2 separate regions of the Homo sapiens genome follow, and region 2 is linked to region 1. Evidence: fine-mapped expression QTL. A gene starts in region 1. The other region holds a variant in brackets. All regions are shown on one strand. Distances are between the middles of the regions.

Region 1 (5,385 bases):
GGACACCAGTGGGTACAGTGCACTACTGCCCAGAACTCCTGGACTCGAGCAATTCTCCCAGCTCACCCTCCTGAGTAGCTGGGACCACCGGCATGTGTCACCGCGCCCAGCAAATTGTATTCTTTAAAAATGGGTAAGTTGTAATGATATGTGTGTTAAATCTCAATAAAGCTTGAGTTTCTAGCTTTAATAACTGGAAACATGGTGTCACCATTAGCCAAAATTGGGACTACAGGAGGAAGAATGTGTTTGGGGGAAAATAAGCCTTGGACATATTGAATGGCTGTGATAAGCACACAGTGAATGTCCTGCTCTGGAACACAGGAAAGAAGATGGGGCTGGAAATAATAATGCATACACAATCATTTATTGAGCATCTGTTACATACCAGGTGCTGTGAATATGTTGTTTATGTACACTGACCGGTAGGTTGCGTATGTATACTGTTTATTGTTTCTGCTCCCTCTCTTCCCCTGTGTAAGTCAATGAGAGAAGGGCCTTCATCTTTCTTAATGCTGTCTCCAGCACCTACAGCACAGGCTGGCAGAGAGTCGGCATATAGCATTTACTGGGTGAATAGAAATGCAGTATCTTTTAACCCTCATAACAATCCTTTGTGGTAGGTTTTCGTTCCCATTTCACACAATTTTCTTAAGAGCACAAAGCTAGTAAGTGACAGTGGTCTGTCTGCATTCCACGTCACAATGCAATACTATAATCTCTCAATCTCCCAGAACGAATCTGGAACAAAGGAAAGCAGTAAAGGTCATGTAAACCCAATTTCTGCAAATTCATAATAACTGCATATGAAAATCCAACTGGGTTAGGTGCTGGAGTTAATACAACGATAAACTGGACAAGAATCGGAAGAAAAATACATTTAAGACAAAATCCGTAAGACTTGACGCATAACCTTGCTAGTTCAAGAAGCTCTTTCACACATATTATGTTATTTAACCCCCACAAATAGCCTAACAAGTAGGTTTTATTACCATTCCAATCAGGCTTTTGTCCTCCACTTAAACTGTACTCCCCAAGGTGACTTCTGTGTTGCTAAATGCTCAACAGGTACTCACTTCAGGCACAACATTTAAGGGAGCACCAAAAAACTAAGTGATCAAGATGAATAACATTTTTATTTTTTAAAATTAAAATTAATGCAAAAAAAAAATCCATGAATAACAAAATACCAACATTTAAAATAAAGAGGATTCTCAGGACTGGGCTCGCCTACCTGGATGCCCTAACGGAACTCCTCATTCACAATAGGATTGAATGACCTCGAACTAAAGTGTCACGTACTTCCTGCTCGTGATGCTCGTGAGCCCGAACGAAGGCTGAAAAACTTCAGGGGGAGCCATTCTGCCTATCACCCCTAGTTCCAGCGCAGCAGCCCAGCGTGCACCACGCAGGTGGGAACTGACCCCGTGCTTTTGGAACAGGCTGGAACTGGGGGTGCTTGTGCCTGTGCATGTATGTATTGCACACGTGTGCATGCACGCTTCTCGTCTTGCTTCTATTTCCAAGTCCCAGTTCAGGACAGGGCAGAGAACTGCTTTCCAGTATGCGCCCTGAGCTCGGACTTTGCGCTTGCAGACTGAGGCGCCGGCCTGCATGGGAAGACAGAAGCTCAGAATTCCTTCCTGCACAAGTGGCAGGTGGAGTGCAACTCTTTTTGGTGCCTCAGTCCAAGACAGGGACACGCCATTCCCTGCGAGGTGGCAAAGGTACCTGAACCTACATAACCAAGCCCTTAAAGTCTCCGCGGCACCTCTTAATCGCCTTCCCGTAGCTATTGGAGGTAGAGAAACCGCGGCGGGAAGCGCCCCAGAGAGGGCAGTGGAGCAAGGGACACTGGAGGTGCAGAAGGCGGAGGAGCATCTCCTTTCGCTCCGCCCCGCCTCTTTTCCTGCCTCCGGCCAATTGCCGTGCGCTCCGAGCCTTGACCCCGCCTCTCCCCGCCTCCTCCGGCCTGCGGCCCCGCCCGCGCCGGTAATAATTAGCGGGCGGGCGGGGCCCGCGCGTCAGCCGCGGGAGCCGGCCAATCCAGTGGCTCTCCTCCGCGGTCGCGTCATAGGCCGAACAACCAAACAGAAAAGTTTAATAAACAGCGGACGGAGGGGCCGGCGGTGGCGGAGCCGGAGCAAGCAGGGGTTCGGCGGCATTACCTGTACCCATTCACCGGCGGCTACCGGCGGCGGCGCGCAGCGTGTCAGGCGGAGAGACCCGCCGCCAGGTGAGGAGCGCGGCCCGCGGGGCCCGGCTTGCCCGGCGCTGCCCCTCCCCCGCCTGCTCCCTTCCCCCACCCGGCTGCAGCTAGGCGAGGCCCGCCCCCGGCCCCTCCCGGCGCCCGAGAGCCGGAAGCGGAGGGCGGCCGGCCGGCGCAGCAGGTGGTGGGCCCGCGGGGGCCGCGGGCGAGAGGGCGAGGACTCCCGGCTCCGGGGGTGGGGGCCGGAGATCGGCGGGTTCACCTCAGACGGCGCGCGGGCGCCCGCGGCCGGGGGCCGCTTCCTGTCAGGGTGGTCGCGCTGGGGTCGGGAGCCTCAGTTCTTCAGGGCCGCGGAGGCCGCGACGCGCGCCGCCCCGAGCGGGTTGCGAGCGGTTGGCTGGCGGGGGTCGGAAGGGCCCCGGGCACACTGGGGCGCGTCAGTTCCCCGCCTCCTCCGAGTCTCAGGTCCTCTTCGGGATGTTTTTCCACCTGCGGCGTTTTTCAGAAACCAGCCGGAGGCAGCCCGGTGTCTCCAACTCCTGACTGGCACCGGGAAGGGAATTGGTCTCTTTTTTTCCTGCTTGGGTTTAGCTTGCTTAGGATTCTAAATTTTTTGTCTGCTTTTTTGAAATAGTTATATTTAAGTTTTAGCTACCTAAAAAAGTATGAAAGAATATTGTGTTTGAAATCTTTTTAACTTGGTTTTTAAGTCACGTGCTAACTATCCTACACAGTTGGGACGCTATGATTTACCTTCACATCTCGGAAGTTGTAACCAGTTGTGAGGAAGTTAGGACCTTGGGGTTACCTAAAGATAATTTATATTAAGTTGTTGGGCCATAAAAACTGGGCAGAATTGGCCACGCGCGGTGACTCAACGCCTGTAATCCCAGCACTTTGGGAGGCCGACGCGGACTAATCACGAGGTCAGGAGATCGAGACCATCCTGGCCAACATGGTGAAACCCTGTCTTTACTAAAAATACAAAAATTAGCTGGGTGTGGTGGCGGGCGCCGGTAGTCCCAGCTACTGGGAGGCTGAGGCAGGAGCATCGCTTGAACCCGGGAGGCGGAGGTTGCAGTGAACCAAGATCGCGCTACTGCACTCCAGCCTGGCGACAGAGGGAGACTCCGTCTCAAAAAAAAGCCGGGCAGAATTAATGATTTTGAAGCTCCGAGAAACAGGATTAAATTCCTCTTTCAAACCGAAATCGGAATTTGATTTTTTAAAAGTGTAAAATACCATAAACTTTTAAGGTTAGTTGTTCGGTAACCATGTCACCAATTTTAAGGCACTTTCTGAGTTGTGTATAGTTTCTCCAGAGCCCTAGGGGAAATGTTTTGCAAAATATGCACGTTTAGCTTTCCAAAACAAGTTGTCTTTTTTATTTTTACTTTTTTACGTTTTAAAATGTGTTTAAAGGGAGACATCACAAATGTGCAGGAGAAAATACAGGGGTCGGTGGATTTATTATCTTGTAGTGATAACTTTTTGGGTGTATGCATATGTCAGAACTTACACGTTTTACACTTCAAATATGTGCAGTTTATTGTCAACTATATGTCAGTAACGTTTTTAAGAAGTAACCAAAATATATTTAATACTACCAAAAAAAAACACGGTAAAGTATAAGCAGATAAAAACATCATAAATCCTTGATGACTCCCCCCAAACCCAAAACTGGAACATTACTAAAACTTGCATTTGTCTATGAGTTTCTTATCTGTGCAGTGGATTTTGTGTATGTCACTTCCTTGACTTTTTGAAAAATAGTTTTATCATATATGTTTGTATGCCGAAACTGTGTGGCATTTAATTTGTTTTTCTTTTGAGCTTTATAAAAATAGTATGTGGCTGTAGTTTATTTCATTGCTTTATGATATGTTAATCTGCCATAACTTATGGGCACTTCGACCGTGTTTTTATTGTTTTTTATTTTGTTTTGTTATAAGCAGTCTTGCTCTGTGAACATTTCTTGTTTCCGGCTCTTGGTACACAAGTACAAGAATTTCTCTAGAGTAAATACTTAATGTGGATTGCATTAGACGGTATTAGGTAATCAGGACTAGAATAGATTGAATTACTTAGAAATAAGATGAATGAAAAACATTAGGATTCTCTATTATGTTTAAATAGAAGATTCATAGCCGTAGTGATTGAACTAGTTCAACCTAGTTGAACATTTGCATGAAAACCCAAAATTCCTGTTAACCTATGTGTAATGACTCTCTTACTTTGAAGTCACATTGTAAAAAGTCTGGCACTGTTTGGTATCTCCTTTTCAATGCAAAAATAGTATAGTAGAAAAAACGCTGGATTGTATGTAAAATAAATTATCCTTTCTGCTGTTCCTCTCCTCCCCTCTAATCTCTAGCAAATTACTTAAAAATTTCTCTTGTGCCTTAGCATACTCATGTAAAAGAAACTTGTCCTAAGCTTATCCTTCCACTTTTGCACAGACTTTAATTAAGGAAAACACCTGTCAAATGTCACACCCTTTAAGGGAAAGCATTAGGACCAAGGTGTTATTCTGTGGAATTAAATTTTGTATCCTTTGGAACATTTTTGGAAAAGTTGTGTGGTGGTTCAGGATTTGTTAACTCCATATTTAAATATGTTTTAGATTAGAGAATGCCCACAAGGTGTGTTTCCCGAGGATCTGTTTCATTATGCTAACAGGAACACAGCGACAAATTAGGGAATAGTATCTCCTTACTATCCTGAAGATAGGTGTGTTTTTATGTGTTTCATGTTTCATTCATGTATGTAAGTGTGAATTTACATGTAATTTTGAATAACCTTTTTGTTTGAAGGCATGGGAGTAGAGATGGTTTCATTTTTTCTATATGTAGCTTGCAGACAAATATCAGGATGCTTTGTTTTGGTAGGGCTGTATTCTGCTTTTAAAAACCTTATTTTTTATTTAATTATAAGGACAATGTGTATATGGGGTTTTCCCCCTCAAACTTGAGAAAGAATAGAAAGTTACTAAGAAAAGCCACCTATAACACCATGATAGATAACTATTATTAACATTTTGTCAGGTATACCCCTGGTCTTTATGTGTGTATTCTTAATATCCTAAACTATTAAGAGTCCATTCTAAACACTCTCAGCCTGGCTCTTTCTTAAGAACTTACCGAAATGTAATCTGCCTCACCATCTTATTTCATATA
Region 2 (5,385 bases), 89 kb after region 1:
CAGTCTCTTCAATAAATGATGTTGGGAAAATTGGATATCCACATGTGGAAGAATGAAATTAGACCCTTATCTCACACCATATATAAAAATCAACTCAAAATGGATTAAAAACGTAAACTTAAGAAATGAAACTGTAAAACTAGAAGAAAATGGGAAAAGCTCCATGTCATTGGTCTGGGCAATGATTTTTTGGATATGAACCCAAAAGCACAGGCAACAAAAGCAAATACAGACAGATGCGATTATATCAGGCTAAAAAGCTTCTGTATAGCCAAGGAAACAATCGACAAGAAAAAACCTAGGAAGTGGGAGAAAACATTTGCAAACCACACATCTGATATGGAATTAGAATCTAAAATAAATAATGAAGTCAAACAACTCAATAGCAAGAAAACAAGTAACCTAATTCTTAAAAAATGAGTAATGGATATGAATAGACATTTCCCAAAAGACATAAAAATGGCCAACAGGTATGTGAAAAAATGCTCAACATCATTATCAGAAAAATGCAAAATAAAACCACGATGAGATATCATCTCACACCTGTTAGAATGGCTATTATCAAAAAAACAAAAGACAGCAAGTATTGCAGAGGCTGTGGAAAACAGGGAACCCTTGTACTTTGTTGGTGGGAATGTAAATTAGTACCGCCATTATGGACAACATAGGGGTTCCTCAAAAAATTAAAACTAGCGCCACCATATAATTCAGCAATCCCTCTGCTAAGTATATATCCAAAGGATATGAAATCAGTATGTCATAGAGATACCTGCACCTCCATGTTCATTGTAGCATTATTCACAATAGCCAAGATATGAAATCAAACTGAGTGTCCATCAGCAGATGAATGGATAAACAAAAGGTTTGTATACACAATGGAATACTATTCAGCCATAAAAAGAAATCCTGTCATTTATGACAACATGGATGAAGCTGGAAGACATTATATTAAATGAAATAAGCCAGATGCAGAACAACAAATACTGCATGATCTCACTTACATGTGGAATCCCAGAAAAAGTTGAAGTCAGAAGTAGAATAGAATGATGGTTACCAGGGGGTAAGGGCTGGGAGGTTGGGGAGATATTGGTTAAAGCCCACAAAATTTCAGATAGGAGGAATAAGTTCAAGAGATCTATTGGAAAATATGCTGACTATAATTAATAACCGTATTTTTTTTTTTTTTAGTCCAACTGAGTCTTGCTCTGTTGCCCAGGCTGGAGTGCGGTGGCGCAATCTCAGCTCACTGCAACCTCCACCTCCCGGGTTCAAGTGATTCTCCTGCCTCAGCCTCCCGAGTAGCTGGGACTACAGGCACGTGCCACCACACCCAGCTAATCTTTGTATTTTTAGTAGAGAGGGGGTTTCACCGTGTTAGCAAGGATGGTCTCGATCTCCTGACTTTGTGATCCACCCGCCTTGGCCTCCCAAAGTGCTGGGATTACAGGCGTGAGCCACCACGCCTGGCCTTATTATATTCTTGAAAATTGCCAAGAGAGTAGATTTCAAATGTTCTCAGGACAAAAAAAATGAAAAGTGAGGTAATGTTTATGTTAAGTAGCTCAACTTAGCCATTGTGCAATGTGTACCTATTTCAGAATGACATGTTTTACATGATAAATATGTATAATTTTTATTTGTCAGCTAAAAAAGTAAAAAAGAATTCTCCAGGTGTTGTCCCAGACAGCCGCTGAGATGTGGAACACATCTGACAACAACAATCAGAATCCTGGTGAGGAGGGAGGGCAGGACAGAATGCTCTCACACAGGATGTTCTTAGACAGAGTCAATCTACTTCTCATGTTGCATGTTATACTTTTATGTACATTAGTGATGGGGAGGTAAGGAAGAGGAAAACAGGATTGCTGACATTTATTGAGAACTTTCTGTGTGTCCCACAATATGCTGAGAGTTTTTGCAGGGGTTTTCTTATTTGATCTTCTAAACAACCTTACAAGGCAGGTATCGTTTTTATTATTTCATTTTTCCAATGCATGAAATTAAGATTTGGTGAGGTACAGTAACCTAAACCCAAACTCAATATGAACGTTCTAGAAAGAGATTTCAAATCTTTCTTATTTGAAACCTTAACATATATATTCTTACAGCTGGGTGCAGGGGCTCACGCCTGTAATCCCAGCAACTTGGGAGGCTGAGGTGGGCAGATCACGAGGTCAGGAGTTCAAGACGAGCCTGACCAACATGGTGAAACCCCATCTCTACCAAAAATACAAAAATTAGCCAGGTGTGGTGGTGTGAGCCTGTAATCCCAGCTAGTTGGGAGGCTGAGGCAGGAGAATCACTTGAACCTGGGAGGTGGAGGTTGCCGTGAACCGAGATCGTGCTACTGCACTCCAGCCTGGGCAACAGAGCGAGACTTTGTCTCAAAACAAAACAAAACAAAACAAAACAAAACATAACAAAAAACAAACCAACAACAACAACAACAGACATATATATTCTGTTACCACATACTGTTTCCTTTTGTTCAACATCTAGGGAAAGGGCCACAAGGAAAAATCATGCCTAACCAACTTTAGTGTGTGTGTGTGTGTGTGTGTGTGTGTGTGTGTGTGTGTGACAGAGAGAGAGAGAGAGAGAGAGAAAGAGAGAGCGAAAGAGAGACAGGGAAATTTTAGTGTGGATTTATTGTTGACAAACTAAACAATGTTTGCAGAGAGAGGCACTGAGAATGATCTATTCAGCTGTGCCAAACAGGTTGAATACAGAGGTTGTAACTTATGTGTCAACATTCCTCTGTATTTCTGGGAGCAGAGTGGGATCCACAGCTATAGCTCAAAAAGGCACCGAACATTTGGATGGGAAAAAAGGGATAATTCAGATGGGAAAACTATTGAATATGTATTTAGTTATAAGAAAACAAAACAAAATTAGAAGTATTTTGTTGAAATAACAGTGAGGGAGAGTCTAAAAAGTGGCTCCTGCTTTGATAATGGTAACAGAGAACTCATTATATGGTACACATTATTAAGTCAGATGGCAATGACATGTTCTTTATTTAAGGTGCTGCTTGTTATTTGTGAGTCTTGCAAATCCAGCTTAAATCCAAAATGGATTTGAGGTAGTATTCCATCAGAACATAGACACAATAGTACCTGAAACAGACTAAAGACAGAATTAAAGAGGGCAGGAAGAAGAAAATTTATATTGCAGAAAACCTAGCCCTGGTTGAGCTGGTTCACCTAGGACTTCATCCAATCCCCTTCTCCCCACCCTA[C/T]AACATGCACTTGCACTTGAATTACTTACGTTCAGTTCCAAGATCCTCTAAATTTTGAACTCCTTTGAGAGGACAGAATGTCATGTATATTTGCACATGACATATATTCTTGATACTAAAATGTACTGGACACATGCCAAACCCATGATGCCCACTACAAAATGTGTACCATAAACATCACTGAGCTCAGACCTGAAAAAGAGAGGACACTTACTTTGCTAAAGTGCTTGGCCTTTGACATAGTTTCCTCTTTTTCTTGACGACCATGCAGCAGTGCTGAATGTTGCAAAAAAGGCCACCCCATCCTGCTTCCCAGTGCAGGCAGCGTCCACACCTTGCTTATCTGAATGGCAACTGCCAGCTTCTCAGAGCCGTTGCAAGACATTAGTGTCCTGGATCTGGAAAGTTCTCTCTCAGCTCTCTTGTAAAGGAGTGAGGGACATGCTTTGTGTGAATGAGGGCTGCAGTGCAGTGTGTTGCTTTTTAGCATCAGAGGGAGGCATTAAATATGGTGCTACAGAGACCCAAACCAGCCTTCATTGCTGGAGATGCTGAAACTCACTGCGAGTCCTGAAAGTGTTCATACTCTTTGAGTCAGGAATCTTCCTTAGATAATTGTCAAGGAAAAGGAAAACATTCTGTGCATGCACCTCTTCATTGAACCGTTATTATTACCATCTAAAACATTGCGACTTCCTTAGCTAATGACAATGATCATAATAAAGCCTATTGGGCCTCAAGGAAAAATATTCAAGAGAATAAGGTAGGGAAAGACTGAAAAATTGCATCTATGTAAAGTTTATAAGGATGGAAAAGCCATGTGCATACAAATGGAATGAAAAAAAAACATGAAAATGAGAAGACTACATTGGTGGGATTATGGGCAATCTCTTTGTTTTAAAATTCTTTTTAAATAATTGTTGTGATATACGTGGCCAACACATTCTCTTCCAAAAAATGAGAAAGAAAAAATATAGTATACTTGCAAGTTATTTCAAATGCTGTTTTCCAAATAGAGAACAGCTTTGGCGTTTTCAGACACTGTGTATAATTAGTGGGTTGGTTAAGTCTATTTTAAAACTATGAAATCTTACTCCCTCTTTAGCCATCTCATCCCCACACCCTTTCCTACACATACATCTGCCCCATGTCCTTTCCCTAAAATACTTTGGTTTTCTTTCTCCAAGGGTTTTATCATTTAGGCTTTTGTTAACTTGTATGTATTCAGTAGAAGCTCCTGGCCTAGCATCCCCCACACAACACATGCTCCATAAAAACAGGAATTAAAGATGTGAGTTGCTGGTGTATCCCCATGGCCTGGCATAGGGCATGGGCTTATTAGTTATTGCTTCATTTCCTTTTGGTCAACAGTTTTATATTAATGACATGTATTTATGGAGAACCTATTCTGTGCCAGGTGTTTTGCTGGGTATTGACAGAGTTGCACATGGAATAAGAAAGCTCGTGGTTTTAATGGGAAGGGGCAGGGCAACTACAGAACGTGGAAATAATTCATTGCGTTGCAGCTGAGGACTAGCTTGAATTAGGCAGGTATCAAGTGCTCCCTGGAATGCCTCTTTATAAGGCCACCAAGTTGGGATACTCTCCTCTTCTTTTCCTCTTTCAGGAACCTACCAGAACAAATCAGACCACCTTCATTCCCTCCCCAGGGCTGACTTAAAAGAACTGAAGCCAGTCCTTGGCAGAGCCACTCAGGGCAGGAGATGAGAGCCAAGAGGCTGTGCCCAGATTACACTCCTTACTGGGTGATGATCACTGGTCACGCCTGGTGGACAGGCACCAGAGTGATCTCAGGGGCTAGGAAGGGGGGCTCAACAGCGGGCCCTGCTTGCCGTACTCGCTCCTCTCAAGCCGTCTGGTTTCAAGCCCACTTAGCTCACATTATCCTGCCATCTTCCAGCCTCTTCTCCCTAAGCTGAAATGCGGAGCAGCCTCCCTAACTCAGCAGTCACTGTGTCACATTCCTCAAGGATCTTCAGGGAACCCTTGCCCAGACTATCGTCTACTTTTCTAGATTTCAGCCGGCATCCTGGCTGTTTAAAAGTGTACCTGAATCATTCACACCAACAATAACACAACGACACACTCTCCGGTGTGTTCCAAGTGTCCTGGCTGTGGCATGGTCT

The links.
Region 2: its variant is fine-mapped to the expression of ZFAND6 in whole blood (INTERVAL, PIP 0.97).

Annotation. Positions count from the first base shown.
Region 1 is chr15:80,057,574-80,062,958 of GRCh38, forward strand. It overlaps ZFAND6 (zinc finger AN1-type containing 6), which reads left to right and starts at 2,103. Exons shown (of 7, transcript NM_019006.4): 1 at 2,103-2,236. RefSeq lists silencers at 1,781-2,109, 1,806-2,675.
Region 2 is chr15:80,146,308-80,151,692 of GRCh38, forward strand. No RefSeq gene overlaps it. Among named protein-coding and RNA genes, the nearest start is that of FAH, 4.0 kb to the right of the region's middle. The variant C/T (reference allele first, on the strand shown) is at 3,239.